4 linked regions of the Homo sapiens genome follow. The protein of the gene in region 1 purifies or fractionates together with the protein of each later gene. This does not show direct contact. Each region holds a gene or a part of one and is shown in the gene's direction. Other genes may lie near its edges.

Region 1 (5,160 bases):
TATAAAAGCACTGTGGCCAGGCAGGGTGGCTCACACCTATATTCCCAACACTTTGGGAAGCCAAAGTGAGAGCATTACTTGAGCCCAGGAGTTCAAGACCAGACTGAGCAATAATAGCGAGACCTAGTCTTTACAGAAAAATAAAAATAAAAAAACTAGCCAGGCTTGGTGGCATGCTGCTGTAGTCCCAGCTGCTGGGGAGGCTGAGGCAGGAGGATTGCTTGAGCCCAGGAGTTGGAGTTTGCAGTGAGCTGTGATCATGCCACTGCACACCAGACTGGGTGAAAGAGCCAGACCTTGTCACTGAAAAAAAGAAAAAAGTATGGAGATGAATATCCTTAGAGCTAAAACTTTATTATTTCTTAATTATTTTCTTAAGATAAATCCCTAAAAGTAGTATTACTGGGTCAAAGAGCATACATATTTTTAAGGCTTGTGATGATGTGCGGAAGTATTATGCCGGTTTTCTGTCCCACAAAAAGTGTATGCCAACATCTGGAAGAATTATTTCTATAAATGATTTTTAGGATCGTATGAACAACATTAACTATGCCTTTATCTGCTGAAACCAACTTCTTTCCTTTTTTTTTTTTTTTTTTTTTTTTTTTGAGATGGAGTCTTGCTCTGGTCCCCCAGGCTGGAGTGCAGTGGCTCGATCTCTGCTCACTGCAAACTCCGCCTCCCAGGTTCAAGCGATTCTCCTGCCTCAGCCTCCTGACTAGCTGGGATTACAGGCGCCTACCACCACGCCCAGCTAGTTTTTTTTTTGTATTTTTAGTAGAGATGGGGTTTCACCATGTTGGCCAGGCTGATCTCGAACCCCTGACCTTGTGATCCGCCCACCTCGGCCTCCCAAAGTGCTGGGATTACAGGTGTGAGCCACCGTGCCTGACCTTTTTTTTTTTTTTTTTTTTTTTTTTTAAGACAATGTCTCACTCTGTCGCCCAGGCTGGAGTGCAGTGGCACTATCTTAACTCACTGCAACCTCTGCCTCCCGGGTTCAAGCAATGCCCCTGCCTCAGCCTCCCAAGAGCTGGGACTATAGGCGCCTGCCACCCACGCCTAACTAATATTTAGTAGAGATGAGGTTTCACCATGTTGGCCAGGCTGGTCTTGAACTCCTGACCTCAAGTGATCTGCCTGCCTTAACCTCCCTCAAAACGCTGGGATTACAGGTGTGAGCCACCGCGCCCGGCCTGAAACCAGCTTTTATATAGGTGATTGTTACTTTCTACTCTTTCCTAACAGGTTTTCTTAAATGTTTTCTTGGAGCCTTAAAGATGGAGATGACAGAAATGACTGGTGTGTCGCTGAAACGTGGGGCACTGGTTGTCGAAGATAATGACAGTGGAGTCCCAGTTGAAGAGACAAAAAAACAGAAGCTGTCGGAATGCAGTCTAACCAAAGGTCAAGATGGGCTACAGAATGACTTTCTGTCCATCAGTGAAGACGTGCCTCGGCCTCCTGACACTGTCAGTACTGGGAAAGGTGGAAAGAATTCTGAGGCTCAGTTGGAAGATGAGGAAGAAGAGGAGGAAGATGGACTTTCAGAGGAGTGCGAGGAGGAGGAATCAGAGAGTTTTGCAGACATGATGAAGCATGGACTCACTGAGGCTGACGTAGGCATCACCAAGTTTGTGAGTTCTCATCAAGGGTTCTCGGGAATCTTAAAAGAAAGGTACATTTAGTTTATGAATAAAGTTATTTTGATTGTATTAGGTTTCTTCTTTAGAAAGAAATTAGCTTTATATTCTTCCACTTAGCTTTCCATCTCCAAGGCTTGTTTATACTACTGATCAAAAGGAATAGGATGAAGGAAACCTGCCTGAATAAATAGCCTTGGATTTTTAAATTTTAATTAATTAATTTTTTCCCTTTTTTTGAGAGAGGGTCTCACTCTGTCACCCAGGCTGGCATGCAGTGGCATGATCATGCCTCAAATAAATTCATTCACCAGGCACAGTGGCTTACGCCTGTTATCCCAGCACTTTGGGAGGCCGAGGCTGGCGGATCACTTGAGGTCAGGAGTTTGAGACCAGCCTGGCCAACATGGTGAAAGCACATCTATACTAAAAATACAAAAATTAGCTGGGCGTGGTGATGGGCACCTGTAATCCCAGCTACTCGGGAGGCTGAGGCAGGAGAATAGCTTGAACCTGGGAGGTGGAGGTTGCAGTGAGCCGAGATTGCACCACTGCATTCCAGCCTGGGTGACAGAGCAAGACTCTGTCTCAAAAAAATAAGTAAATGAATAAATTCATTTAAATGGTTTCAGATTTTCTCCTGAGTTTGTTTTATAATCTTAAACTCTTTTTTCATTTGAATGTGCCACAACTATGTTAGAAGAAGGTAGTCTTTGGAGCCAGGTGGATCCCAGTGTGAAGTTCGCTACTTAGTAGTTACTTAGCCTCTCTGAACCTCAGCATCCTTATTTAAAAAATGGATCAGGCCAGACACGGTGGCTAACGCCTGTGATCCCAGCACTTTGGGAGGCCAAGGCGGGCAGATCACTTGAGGTCAGGAGTTTGAGACCAGCCTGGGCAACATGGCGAAACCCTGTCTCTACTAATAATACAAAAATTAGCCTGGCGTAGTGGCACGCGCCTGTAATCCCAGCTACTCGGTAGGCTGAGGCAGGAGAATCACTTGAACCCAGGAGGCGGAGGTTGCAGTGAGCCAAGATCAAGCCACTGCACTCCAGCCTGGGCAACAGAGCAAGACTCTGTCTCAAAAAAAATAATAGTAATAAAATAAAATTTTTAAATGGATCATATTACCACATTGGGGTTGTTGAGGATTTTGAATAATGCATGTAAAATATTTAACATAAAGGTAAGCTTCAGGCTAGTTCATGGTAGACTTACTGGGTTCTGATTCAATTAACCATATAGCATATTTTGTGATTTAATTTAGTGTGGGCTGCCTGAATCGTCATAGGGTAATGTTAATAAGCTTTTGTTTTTGCATTTCTCTGGAAGAATATTCTAGAAGCTAAGAGGGTCTTTTCTTTAAGTTCTCATATAAAACTTGAGCCAAGGTATGGCTCAGCATTCATTAAGAAACCAGAAAAGACCGGATGTGGTGATTCACGCCTGTAATCCCAGCACTTTGGGAGGCCAAGATGGGCAGATCACTTGAGGTCAGGAGTTCAAGATCAGCCTGGCCAAAATGGTGCAACCCCGTCTCTACTAAAAATACAAAAATTAGCTGGGCGTGGTGGCACGTGCCTGTAATCCCAGCTACTCGGGAGGCTGAGGCGGGAGAATCACTTGGACCCAGGAGGCGGAGGTTGCAGTGAGTGGAGATCGAGCCACTGCACTCCAGCCTAGGCAACAGAGCAAGGCTCCATCTCAAAAAAAAAAAAGAAAAAAAAAATTAACTCCATGTGATTTTGCACTGAAGATTTTTTAAAATTCCTTGTTTTGCATAATAGTAAGGCTTGCTGTTGATCAACTTTATCTTAAAATTAATAGAAAACAGGATGTTAATTATCTGAAAGTTCATGTTTTCTTTCATCAGATACTCCGACTTCGTTGTTCATGAAATAGGAAAAGATGGACGGATCAGCCATTTGAATGACTTGTCCATTCCAGTGGATGAGGAGGTAGAAGTAGCTCTTTAGCAAATGTCACCTTCTGTATAAAAATAGCATTTCCTAGAGATTTAGAAATATAGAGCTTTATTAAACTTGAATTCTATGTATGATTCATTGTGAGTTCTCATGGTTATTTTAAAGGACCCTTCAGAAGACATATTTACAGTTTTGACAGCTGAAGAAAAGCAGCGATTGGAAGAGCTCCAGCTGTTCAAAAATAAGGAAACCAGTGTTGCCATTGAGGTAACTAATGCAAAAATATATGAAAAATTATTTAGGGTTTTAGTTGCTTTTTGGGTGGATGTTAAGTGTTTATGGAAAAAATTACAATGGTTAACAAAGGGTGACTTTTTGCTCTATTGGATCTAAAGGATATTACACTAAAAAATTTTTTTACTGGGGCAGATAACTAGTATCCCAGATAAACTATAGCCCCCCCCAAAGTTACATTTTTGTTTAAAAACATTTTTATTTGGGTACAGTGTTACATGCTATTCCAAAGTCCTAGCTACTCCGAAGGCTGAAGCCAGAGGTTTACTTGAGCCCAGGAATTGGAGACTAGCCTGGACAACATAGTGAGACATCATCTCTGAAAAAAAAATTTAGGGACCACAAATGAACAGCGACATATGTTGTTTAGAATCCCAGAGTACCAATTATACCACAATGTCCGTTGTAACAGGACCACCATTTGCTGTCTGTCAGGTATGTGACCCAGGTCAGATTCTGGCTTCAGCAGCTTCTTGGCCTCAGTTGGGACTCTGGGAAGGGGAGGAAATGGGGAAAGGAAGTAGGGGAGCATTTATTTGCTCATCGTGGGTCAATTCTGCTATTGAAGAAAAGGAGAGCTCAGCTACTAAGTAGAATAGTAAATTTTGTTGTTAAAGCTTTTGTTCGCCGGGCACGGTGGCTCACACCTGTAATCCCAGCACTTTGGGAGGCCAAGGTGGGCGGATCACTTGAGGTCAGGAGTTCAAGACCAGCCTGGCCAACATGGCGAAATCCCGTCTCTACTAAAAATACAAAAAAATTAGCCAAGCGTGGTAGCGCAGGCCTGTAGTCCCAGCTACTTGGGAGGCTGAGGCAAGAGAATCTCTTGAACCTAGGAGACAGAGGTTGCAGCGAGCAGAGATCATACCACTGCACTCCAGCCTGGGCGGCAGAGCGAGACTCCATATCAAAAAAAAAAAAAAATTATGTTAAATTAATTTTGTACTACATTTTAATGAGCTATGGGGTTTTCGGTTGTCTGAAATTCCCCCTCCCAGCACTCCTAGTTAATAAGCGTACTACAACTTTTCAGAATTCATTATCTGCTCCTTGTCTCCCTCCTTACCTGAGCTTCCCAAAAGCGTGTGGTATTGCAATGTTAGAAATCTTCCATTACTGAAAAAATCTTTAGACAAAACCTTTAGCAATGCCAAGAGGAAAATTCCTGGCAGATTTCTAGAGCAATCCAGAAGGATGGTCCAAGTTTCCTTTGCTTGTACAATGCAGAGGTTTATCTTAGGCTTATAATATGTATTTTCGTATACATGTGGTAAAATTTACTATTGTCTTAAAAA
Region 2 (3,500 bases), about 13 Mb from region 1:
TTATCTTCTGTTCAAAGATTACATACTTCCATTATCCTGTCAAAAAAAAAACTCTGATACAGAATCAAGCATGTGAATCGTAAGCATGTAAGCAGGTTTCATAGAGATAATTTTTCAACTCTTCCTTGTCCTGTGTTGTTCCAACTCTTATTCTCCAATTTAGAAGCAAACAAATAAATGAATGAAAGAACAGATAGACAAATGAATAGTCAAAGGTATAAAGTATCTGTATATATGTTACATGTAGCTATTATTTAAATTATTTAGATTTTCCTTTTGAAATACCTTCTTGGCACACTTGCCTAAATCTAGAAAATAAGCACTGTGTGAATAAGAAATTATTTACACTGAATATTTTGTAGGTTTTTGGGTTTTTGTTTTTCAGACAAGGTCTCACTTTGTCACCCAGGCTGGAGTACACTGGTACGATCACAACTCACTGCAGCCTCTATGGCCCAGGCTCAAGCAATCTCCCCACCTCAGCCTCCCGAGTAGCTGGGACCACAGGCACACGCTACCATGCCCAGATAATTTTATTATTAATTTTTGTATAGAGATGGGGTCTCCCTGTGTTGCCCAGGCTTTCTTGAACTCCAGGGCTCAAGTGATCCTCCCACCTCAACCTCCCAAAGTGTTGGGATTACAGGCGTGAGCCACCATGCCCAGCCTTAAGAGTGTTTGATTTTCATTCATTTTCCTATATATATTATTTCTGTTGGGGAAAAAATTCCAAGGAAGATAAATAGTAGGCTGTTGGTACATTTCTCAACTTACTTATAAAGCTTTTTAGATATATAAGGTTAATTTATGAAGAAAATCATAAGATACACAATTTAAGATAATATTTTTAATTTTATTTTTTATTTGTTAAATAAATTTTTCTCCTTTCAGGTGTCACGTCTTGAAATTTTAAATGTCCTCAGTGACTCTCTACCTCTGGCAGATGATGTTGACCTTCAGCATGTAGCATCAGTAACTGACTCCTTTACTGGAGCTGATCTGAAAGCTTTACTTTACAATGCCCAATTGGAGGCCTTACATGGAATGCTGCTCTCGAGTGGACTCCAGGCAAGTTATATGAGGAAGTTGTTATGACATTTTATGAGTGATAAAAGAAGTACAATGTCAAAATTTCCACCTTAAAAAATGCTATTTTTTAAACAACTTTGGTAAAACTGTATAGAAACATAAATTTACCTTTAGTTGAATGTTCCATAGTTGGAATATGGGTTTTGCAGAGAATTTATAATTATGAAGTTTGATGTCTGTTTCTTTAACATTACCTTAATATTGGCAAAAACATGTTGGTGTTTGCAAGGATATTATTTAAATTGGGATACCATGAATTAAATACTACAAACAAAAATAATTAGAGTTTTTTGTTTGTTTGTACTTTAACTTTTAAAAAATAATCAGTTAAAGTTGTTGTTTTGAAGCTCACATTGTTCCAATCTGGCCAATAGGAGCCCCTTTTGTATGGCTCCTGTATCTTTATGACATGTCCTCATCATTCTTGAATCACTTCCTCACTTCCAGATACAGTAAGTTATTCTTGGCCAGGTGCAGTGGTTCACGCCTGTAATCCCAGCACTTTGGCAGGCCAAGGCAGGAGGATCATTTGGGCCTAGTTTGAGACCAAATCATGGTTGCACAAACTGTACCCACTATGGACAACAGAGTGGGATCTTGTCTCTGTGAAAAATTTAAAAATTAGCTGGGCATGGTGGCACATACCTGTAGTCCTAGCTTCTTGGGAGAGGCTGTGGCAGGAGGATCGCTTGAGTAAATCCAGGATGCAGTGAGCCATGCTTGTGCCACTGCACTCCAGCATGGATGACAGAATGAGACCCTGCCCCCAAAAAAGAAAAATATTCTTGGTTTATCTTGTACTTTCTGTATCCCAGCCCTAGCATCAGCCTTTTCTCTAAAGACAGTATTATGATTTTAATATTTACAGTAGATATTTGAACTGTTACATTATAGACTTTACCATATATTTTCTAGGAAGGATTATTCTATTACTCTTCTTTACCACATTTGTTTGGAATGTCTACAGAACCTACAGTTTCTAAATCAGAAACTCCCTAGGTTTTTGCTATTTTGGCAAGCCATTGAAGTTCTTCCCTCTCCCTTTACTACCAGAAAGGTGTGTATTTGTAGAGCTCTCTATAATGAGAAAGCACTCTATAACATGGTTGATTCATCATTTTGGAGTAGAAAAGTATGAATGGAAAGTCAGAGACATAAAAATAAAGCCCAGAGGTCTGAGTCTTAGCTTCATTACAGACTTTCTTGGGGGATGGTTGGTAAATTATCTACACATTCTATCTTGTCTTTATAATTTTAATAGTTAAATTTTTACCATGTGCCTCAAAACCGTTAGAGAATTAATGAGCTCTTTGAAAAATGCTTCTAAGTTTCTTGTATTGCTCTAATAGAATGCTATCTATGTTATTATTTATTTCTGAGACTAAAATTGTTTACATCTTTAAACTGGTTGTCCTTTTGTGTATTTTAGGATGGAAGTTCCAGCTCTGATAGTGACCTAAGTCTGTCTTCAATGGTCTTTCTTAACCATAGCAGTGGCTCTGACGATTCAGCTGGAGATGGAGAATGTGGCTTAGATCAGTCCCTTGTTTCTTTAGAGATGTCCGAGATCCTTCCAGATGAATCAAAATTCAATATGTACCGGCTCTACTTTGGAAGCTCTTATGAATCAGAACTTGGAAATGGAACCTCTTCTGATTTGGTATCTTGTGCAGTCATCATTATACAGTTCTGAAATATAAAGCTATATGTTGGTGTAAAGTTGCAGTGATTTCTCTCCTAACCAGCCCCACATATTCTTCCTGGTTGGTTGGTTCTTCAGTAAAATAGTCTTGTTTCTTGCTTACACTAATTGGTAATTTGCATTCCTTGTTAAGATTTTCAAGACAGGGCTGGGAGCAAGGAACCAAAGTAGCGCGTGGTTGTGATTACCTTTGGTTTCTTTGAGGTTTCTCTTACCTAGTGGCTTTAAAACATCTTTAGGAGCAGTTCCATTTTATAGTAAACTTAAATTCTGTTATCATGAACAGTTGAGGATAATGAATAATTTGATACAATAATGTAAGAAATTCCTGAAAACAAAGTGTTATCTGTGATACTTTTGCTGCATAGTAAGCACAATGAAGTGTACTGATAATGTTTCAACAGGAAAGTGTTTTGATTAAATGTGGGCAGTATCACTGTTCTACTAGCATTCAACATCTCTTCTAAAAATTAATAGTGGTTCACTGTAATTTTATTGGTACATGTAACATCTGTACATGTGTTTGGTTATCTATATGTTTCCTGGTTTTTTGTACATTTGCTTTATTAATTTAGGCTTTTTTTTTTTTTTTTTTTTGAGACAGTCTCACTCTATCATCCAGACTAGAGTGCAGTGGCACAATTATGGCTCACTGCAGCCTTGACCTCCTGGGCTTAGGTGATTCTTCCACCTCAGCCTCCTGAGTAGC
Region 3 (3,500 bases), on another chromosome or scaffold:
CTTTTTTGTCCTACTTAATTTTTATGGTTTAGAAAATTTTCTCCCCTTTAGTTTTACTGATTTGTTTACCATATGGATTGTCTTCAGTGATGGTGATTGGCTAAATTAGGTTGAAAATGATAGTGAACATGTATTGAGAGCTCATTGTATGGCAAGCATTACTCTGTGCTCTTTTTTCTTTTCTTTTTTTTTTTTTTGAGATGGAGTTTCACTCTTGTTGTCCAGGCTGGAGTGCAGTGGCGCGATCTTGGCTCACTGCAACCTCCGCCTCCTGAGTTCAGGCAATTCTCCTGCCTCAGTCTCCCAAGTAGCCGGGATTACAGGTGCGCACCACCACACCCTGCTAATTTTGTATTTTTAGTAGAGACGGGGTTTCTCCATGTTGGTCAGGCTGGTCTCGAACTCCCGACCTCAGGCGATCCGCCTGCCTTGGCCTTCCAAAGTGCTGGGATTACAGGTGTGAGCCACTGTGCCTGGCCTTGCTCTGTGTTTTTTAGGTGAATTAGTTGGCTTTATCATTCACACAACCCTCTAAGGGCAGATACTGTCACCATCTCCATTTTTCCAGATGAGGAAAAGGAAGCAAGGAGAAGTACTTGAACTGAGGTTACGGAGCTGTTAACTGGCTGAGCTGAGATTTGAGTCTAGGTAGCTCTGTTCCTTAGCATTATGTTTTCATGATTCTTACTTGTTCATCTCTATATTTAGTCTCTCTGGCTTACAGTTTCATTCTCCTCCCATCCTCTTTGGAGACTGTACCTATATCATTCTGTGATTTTGGGGCAGTGTAGAATCCCTAAAAGTAAATTATGTCATGCTATAGACTCTGTAAAGAAGTATATTTAGATCTTGGACTAGAAATTGAAAAACTAGAATTGCTTTAAATTAAATGTAGAATATTTGGTTTTTTAAAAACATGAAACAGTTTCTTGCTTTGTTAATAGATCTTAGATATGTGTGCAGCACCTGGCTCAAAGACCACACAGTTAATTGAAATGCTACATGCCGACATGAATGTCCCCTTTCCAGGTATGCATTGGACTTGTGTTCAAAATGGTAGGAATGCCACTTTGGCAGATTGTAGACAAGGAAAAGACTCTAACTTTGCCTGCTAATTTGGCTCTAAAGTCTCCTATGACAAGCAGTTGGGTTTTCCGTCTACCGGAAGTAGAACTGGACATCTTGCCTACCACCGTCAGTAGTACTCAAACAAACACACTCATACCATGGGGGAGCTTTATTTTAGAATTATGTGTGTTTTCTATAAAAACGAATGGCATTTCTTTTTTTTTTTTTTGAGATGGAGTCTCACTCTGTTGCCCAGGCTGGAGTGCAGTGGCGTGATGTTGGCTCACTGCAAGTTCCACCTCCTGGGTTCACGCCATTCTCCTGCCTCAGCCTCTCGAGTAGCTGGGACTACAGGTGCCCGCCACCATGCCCGGGTAATTTTTTGTATTTTTAGTAGAGACGGGGTTTCACCATGTTAGCCAGGATGGTCTCGATCTCCTGACCTCGTGATCCGCCCGCCTTGGCCTCCCAAAGTGCTGGGATTACAGGTGTGAGCCACCACGCCCGGCTGCAGATGGTGTTTCTTTATCAAGCCTACTTACAGAAGATAGATTTCACTGTTTGAATTTTTAGTAACAATTTCCCCTTTCCCCCACCTTTGTTCATTATTATTACTATTATTATTATTATTATTACTTACTGCCTTACATGAAGGGTAGTAGTGTGTAGTTAAAAGCTACCATCAGACTCCCTGGGTTCAAATCCTAATCGGCAAGTTACTTACAGTGTTAGACATCCCATGTGAAATGGGACGAATCAGTATGTAGCTTGCGAGGTGCTCAGGAAATGTTAGCTGTTATAGTGACACCACGCCCCTTTCTCTTAAGTGGAAACAAATACCCATCGTGATGTTTTAGAGTCAGCTTTCATCTCGTCCTATCTTTGTTCAGGCAAACTTCTCTAGTTCTGTTTTAATAGGCATATTTGTTAGGTCTGTTTTTTGAAATCCTCTTTTTTACATTGTTTAAAGATAATGCCTTGGCTAAAAAGCCTGCTTCACTTTTCCCTGTTTTTAGTTGTTTTCTCCACATTGGCAGTAAAGAGCCTTGGCGTCCCAGTAGCAGCAGGTTCTCCTTTTTGTATTGTGGATGTTTTGCATTTCATACTGTTGTGAAGAGTGGCTTTGATCATACATGTTGTTGGTATATTTGCCTTTTTGCTGGGGGTGTGAGAAGAACCAGAGATGAGCAGAGGTACACCCAGTAGACTTCCCAGCCTGCAGAGCCTCCCGGGAAGAGCTTCCGTGTTCAGGTGCTTGGGGCCCCACCCTAGGAGCCTGACTCACAGTCAGAGCAGGGTCCCGGCTTGTGTTCAGGATTTTGAAACATTTGTAAGGTGATTTTGTTGTTTCTACACCTTTCTCCTCATCTTTTTTTTTTGTAGTTAATCGTTACTAATAACAGAAAAGACATTTTTGGCATGGTAATTGGCACAAAGTGAATAATTGTTGAATAGATGACTTTTGAGGCTTTCAAAATTCGAGTGTCCATAAAATCCATCCAGAGCCACCTGGTTCCTTTTTTTGAACCACTTAACGTAATTCTGGAAAACCTTGACTGTGGGTCTTAAGTTTGGTGGATTGCTGCTTCTCACTGGCTGACCTTTGGAGGTCGCATATTTCAGGATGTGATTCCACTTAGGCTCCATTTCACCTGACACTGCAATTCTGTGCCTTCAGAGGGATTTGTTATTGCGAATGATGTGGACAACAAGCGCTGCTACCTGCTCGTCCATCAAGCCAAGAGGCTGAGCAGCCCCTGCATCATGGTGGTCAACCATGATGCCTCCAGCATACCCAGGCTCCAGATAGATGTGGACGGCAGGAAAGAGATCCTCTTCTATGATCGAATTTTATGTGATGTCCCTTGCAGGTATTTATCTTATTGGCCAAAAAGCCCAAATCCACTAAAGAAATCAAGTCAAATAGAGACTAAAATGAAGTTGTGCATGAATATGACACAATTGTACATAAGTCTTGGGGTGCGGAGAAAGATAGCGTGAGCCTAAACCAAAAGATGGACACGTAGATACGTCTTAATGAGAAGCAGCACAGCAGATGCTGGATAAAGAACAGAAAGGGGTGGTTGCAATAGCCTGCAGAAAGATAAAGAGAAAACAAAACAAAACAGAGAAAATACGTAAGAGGAAAATAGAATCGTAGACTCTTATTGTGGTGTGTTTTAGGATGTTATTGCTTGGAACAATTTGTGCACCCCAACTATTTTGTATTAGTTCTTCCAGTGAGTACAGTATATAAAAAACTTTGTCATAAAATAATACGTAATCACATTGGATTTTATGTTATTTAGTTGAATGAAAGAAATTTCGGAGTTCAAGCCCTTAAGAAATTCATTTTGCTTGTGTTTTTATACCTTTCTTGAGATAATACATCAACATTTTAGATATTTAGAGTTTAGATATAAAATAATACT
Region 4 (3,500 bases), on another chromosome or scaffold:
TGTAAATTGGTAAAATTACGTTTAAGTTTCTCAGACAGGAGTACTAATGATTTTGTCTCTTGCAGCCACGTATGGACCAGTACTTTAATCAGATGGAGAAAATTGTGAAAGAAAGAAAAACCTCATCTAGGATTCGGTTCATGCTTCAAGATGTTATAGACCTAAGGCTGGTGAGTGGGAAAAAAAATAATAATAAGCCTGCTGGTCCAGTCTCTTTAAAGGAATTGGGTTGGGGAAGGATGTCCTGTTGTTTACATGTGTAAAGATAGTGCTTTTGCTTCAGGACTCAGAATTTGGATTGGCAAACTTTCCGTGGGAGAGTTCTGAGAAGGGACAAAAGGCCTATTGCCAGTTACGTGCTTCTTCTCCTTATTCTGATTATCAAACCATATTGCAATTTTGTTTGCGCTTTGTTTTTTTTTTTGAGATAGAGTCTCACTCTGTCGCCCAGGCTGGAGTGCAGTGGCTCAATCTCGGCTCACTGCAGCCTCCGCCTCCCAGGTTCAGATGATTCTTCTGCCTCAGCCTCTGGAATAGCTGGGATTACAGGCACATGCCCCCACACCTGGGCAATTTTTGTATTTTTAGTAGAGACAGGATTTCACGCTGTTGGCCAGGCTGGTCTGGAACTCCTGACCTCAAATGATCTGCCCACCTCAGCCTCCCAAAGTGCTGGGATTACAGGCGTGAGCCACCACGCCCAGCCACTTGCAATTTGTAATCAGCCATTCTGAATTCAAACTCCATTCAAATGTAAATTCAATTAAATTTAGTCTTTGTGAGCTAAATAATCAGCAAGTCTCATCTCCACAGTAAATACCTTTAACTCTCTGAGCCTTACATTTTTAATCTCTAAAATGAGGATGTTGCCTACCTTGCAGATTTGTTGAAGAGTCAATGGAATAATTACGTAAGGTGCCCAGCTCAGATATTGGTGTTTTCTTCTCTTTCGTTTTTCCTGTGACCCTCCTATTCTGCTGCTGGGTTTTTTTTGTTTTTTTGTTTTTTTGTTTTTCTCATTTCTCTTACCGGGTGCAGTTTTTGTTACTACTACTTTTCTCTGTTTTAAGTTTAACTCCTACAGGGAGTTACTCTTTTGTAAGTTTCACTCCTACAGGGAATATACTACATCAAGCCCTACACTAGAGAAAGTGAACAAAGCCCTACCTCTTATTTCTCCTCCACCCAGGCCAGATAGCATTGATGATGATTCTTTATCTTGCTAAGACTAGATGTGGTTGTCTTCACCCATGTTATCAACCACTTATATCAGATGTTGGGACTGTTGCTAGAAAGAGAAGGGAGAAGTATAAAGTGACAACTTATTTTGTCCTTAATACAGGGGATAACCAAAGGGCAGAGTGGTATGGACCTTTGTGTAGAATATCAGAACCATGATATTGGAGAAATAAAAGCATGAGTCATCCTTGACTTAGAACCCCTATGGAATGTGATATGATCTGAGTAGTAATCCCACAGATTAAGGCAAGGCCAAGGAATCCTCATCATTTTTATTTTTCTCTCCTCCTTTCAAATGTACAAAATACTGATACAGATAAAATCCATTTAGTCCACAGAGAAATATATGCCATGCTTAAAAATATAATAATAAATTTGGGCCAGTCTTTCACCCTGTTCTTTGTATCCATTGGCTATTGGAATATGTAGTATACAATTGGCCAGTTTTGACTGAGAAGATTTTAATCCTTCAGCTCTAATCCTAAACTGCTCATAGTGTCATCTATAAGATACATGAGAAACTGCCATAATACAGCTTTTGTAGGTATTTTGTACTTTTCCAGTAGTAAAAATTGCTAATTTTTAAATTTTAAAAAATGTTCAGTTTATCTGGCAGATAACCTTATTTTCTGCTTTTATAGTGCAATTGGGTATCTCGAAGAGCAGATCAAGGGCCTAAAACTATCGAACAGATTCACAAAGAGGCTAAAATAGAAGAACAAGAAGAGCAAAGGAAGGTCCAGCAACTCATGACCAAAGAGAAGAGAAGACCAGGTGAGGCCGGAATCCACCAGGGTTTAGAGAACTTGGAAGTTTCAGGAATACATATTAAGAATTATGTATTTAGGTATAAAATGAGATCAGAAAGAACAGCCCAAAGAATAGAGTGGTGATTGTTAGGTGAAGCAGTTTCACCTGAAGAGTAAAGTTACTGAGTAAAAGTAGAGAATGCAGGAACAAAGCATGATTTCTTTCACTACTTAAAAGCCAGTAAGCAATAAGACTTTATTGAGCATCTTCTATATACTCAGAATTGGTGAGACGAGAAAAGGAAGTGGAAAATGTAGTTACTTCCCTCTCAAAGTGTACAGTTTATCTGGTAAGGTAAAACTTTTGACAAGCAAAAGAGGAACATTTGTTAAGCAAATGGAAGATAGTATATCAATTATGAAATGTGTTCTCCATTAACTGTTAAAATTTAGAGAAAAAGAAGAGAGACAGAAAGCTGAAAGAAAACTTTATTTAAGAAAGGGGCACTTTGTAGCAGGCCGGACGCAGTGGCTCATGCCTGTAATCCCAGCACTTCGGGAGGCTGAGGTGGGTGGATCAATTGAGGTCAGGAGTTTGAGACCAGCCTGACCAACATGATGAAACCCCGTCTCTACTAAAAAATTTGCTGGACATAGTGATGTGTGCCTGTAGTCCCAGCTATTCAGGAGGTTGAGGCAGAAGAATCACTTGAACCTGGGAGGTGGAGGTTGCGGTGAGCCGCGATCGCGCCACTGCACTCCAGCCTGGGGAACAGAGTGAGACTACATCTCAAAACAAAACAAAACAAAAATAGAGACATGCAAAAAAAGTGAAAGATGAAGTAGAAGGCATTTTAAACCTGAGACGATAGTCCATTTACTAAGTTTAGGAACGTTGGAAAAGAAAACCTTTTTCAGAGGGAAATGATAATTTTCTGGCTGATAGTAAATACTCAGTAACCATTAGTTATTGTCACAGACACAGTAGAGCTCATAGTGAAGTTGTTAGGAGAGATGAATTCTGCATGGAAGAAAGTTTACTTTTAAGTTTCTTGAGATACCACACTTACCTTCCTCGCTCTAGTACCTAGTGCAGTGCCTTTTGGGTAATAACTTTTATTTATTATTGAACCAGATTGAGAGGGAAAAGGAGAAGATACCAAAGCCTAATTCATGGAGGATATTCACATATGACTAAAGGAAGAAAAGAACTCTTGGAAAAGTGCCAGACAAGTGGAGAGAAAGGACTAAGATACAAGTGTCATAGAGACAAGGAAGAAGCAAGTCTGTTTATGATCAGTAATATCAGATAGCACGGAGAAAATCAAGACGTTATGTTAGGACCAGAAAAGCTTTTGGATAGACAGTTCGGTGATCTTTCAATTTATTAATTCATTCAGCAAGTATTTTTTTTTGAGATGAGTCTCGCTCTGTCGCCCAGGCTGGAGTGCAGTAGCGCGATCTCGGCTCACTGCAACCTCCGCCTCCCGGATTCAAGCAGTTCTCTGCCTC

The links.
Region 2: the proteins of PUS7 (region 1) and PEX1 purify together in Homo sapiens (affinity purification with mass spectrometry; one large-scale study listed by BioGRID and IntAct). This does not show direct contact.
Region 3: the proteins of PUS7 (region 1) and NSUN2 fractionate together in Homo sapiens (co-fractionation; one large-scale study listed by BioGRID). This does not show direct contact.
Region 4: the proteins of PUS7 (region 1) and EIF4G3 fractionate together in Homo sapiens (co-fractionation; one large-scale study listed by BioGRID). This does not show direct contact.

The regions. Positions count from the first base shown.
Region 1 is NC_000007.14:105,504,633-105,509,792, reverse strand, and holds part of PUS7 (pseudouridylate synthase 7 homolog), read left to right. Parts: intron 1-1,248; 5' UTR 1,249-1,280; coding exon 1,281-1,678; intron 1,679-3,519; coding exon 3,520-3,604; intron 3,605-3,736; coding exon 3,737-3,838; intron 3,839-5,160. UniProt on the Homo sapiens protein: Pseudouridylate synthase that catalyzes pseudouridylation of RNAs.
Region 2 is NC_000007.14:92,490,521-92,494,020, reverse strand, and holds part of PEX1 (peroxisomal ATPase PEX1), read left to right. Parts: exon of another isoform or gene 1-891; coding exon 892-1,068; exon of another isoform or gene 1,069-2,518; coding exon 2,519-2,749; exon of another isoform or gene 2,750-2,778; intron 2,779-3,500. UniProt on the Homo sapiens protein: Component of the PEX1-PEX6 AAA ATPase complex, a protein dislocase complex that mediates the ATP-dependent extraction of the PEX5 receptor from peroxisomal membranes, an essential step for PEX5 recycling.
Region 3 is NC_000005.10:6,619,545-6,623,044, reverse strand, and holds part of NSUN2 (RNA cytosine C(5)-methyltransferase NSUN2), read left to right. Parts: intron 1-944; coding exon 945-1,029; intron 1,030-2,746; coding exon 2,747-2,939; intron 2,940-3,500. UniProt on the Homo sapiens protein: RNA cytosine C(5)-methyltransferase that methylates cytosine to 5-methylcytosine (m5C) in various RNAs, such as tRNAs, mRNAs and some long non-coding RNAs (lncRNAs).
Region 4 is NC_000001.11:20,858,898-20,862,397, reverse strand, and holds part of EIF4G3 (eukaryotic translation initiation factor 4 gamma 3), read left to right. Parts: intron 1-65; coding exon 66-170; intron 171-1,880; coding exon 1,881-2,013; intron 2,014-3,500. UniProt on the Homo sapiens protein: Component of the protein complex eIF4F, which is involved in the recognition of the mRNA cap, ATP-dependent unwinding of 5'-terminal secondary structure and recruitment of mRNA to the ribosome. Functional homolog of EIF4G1.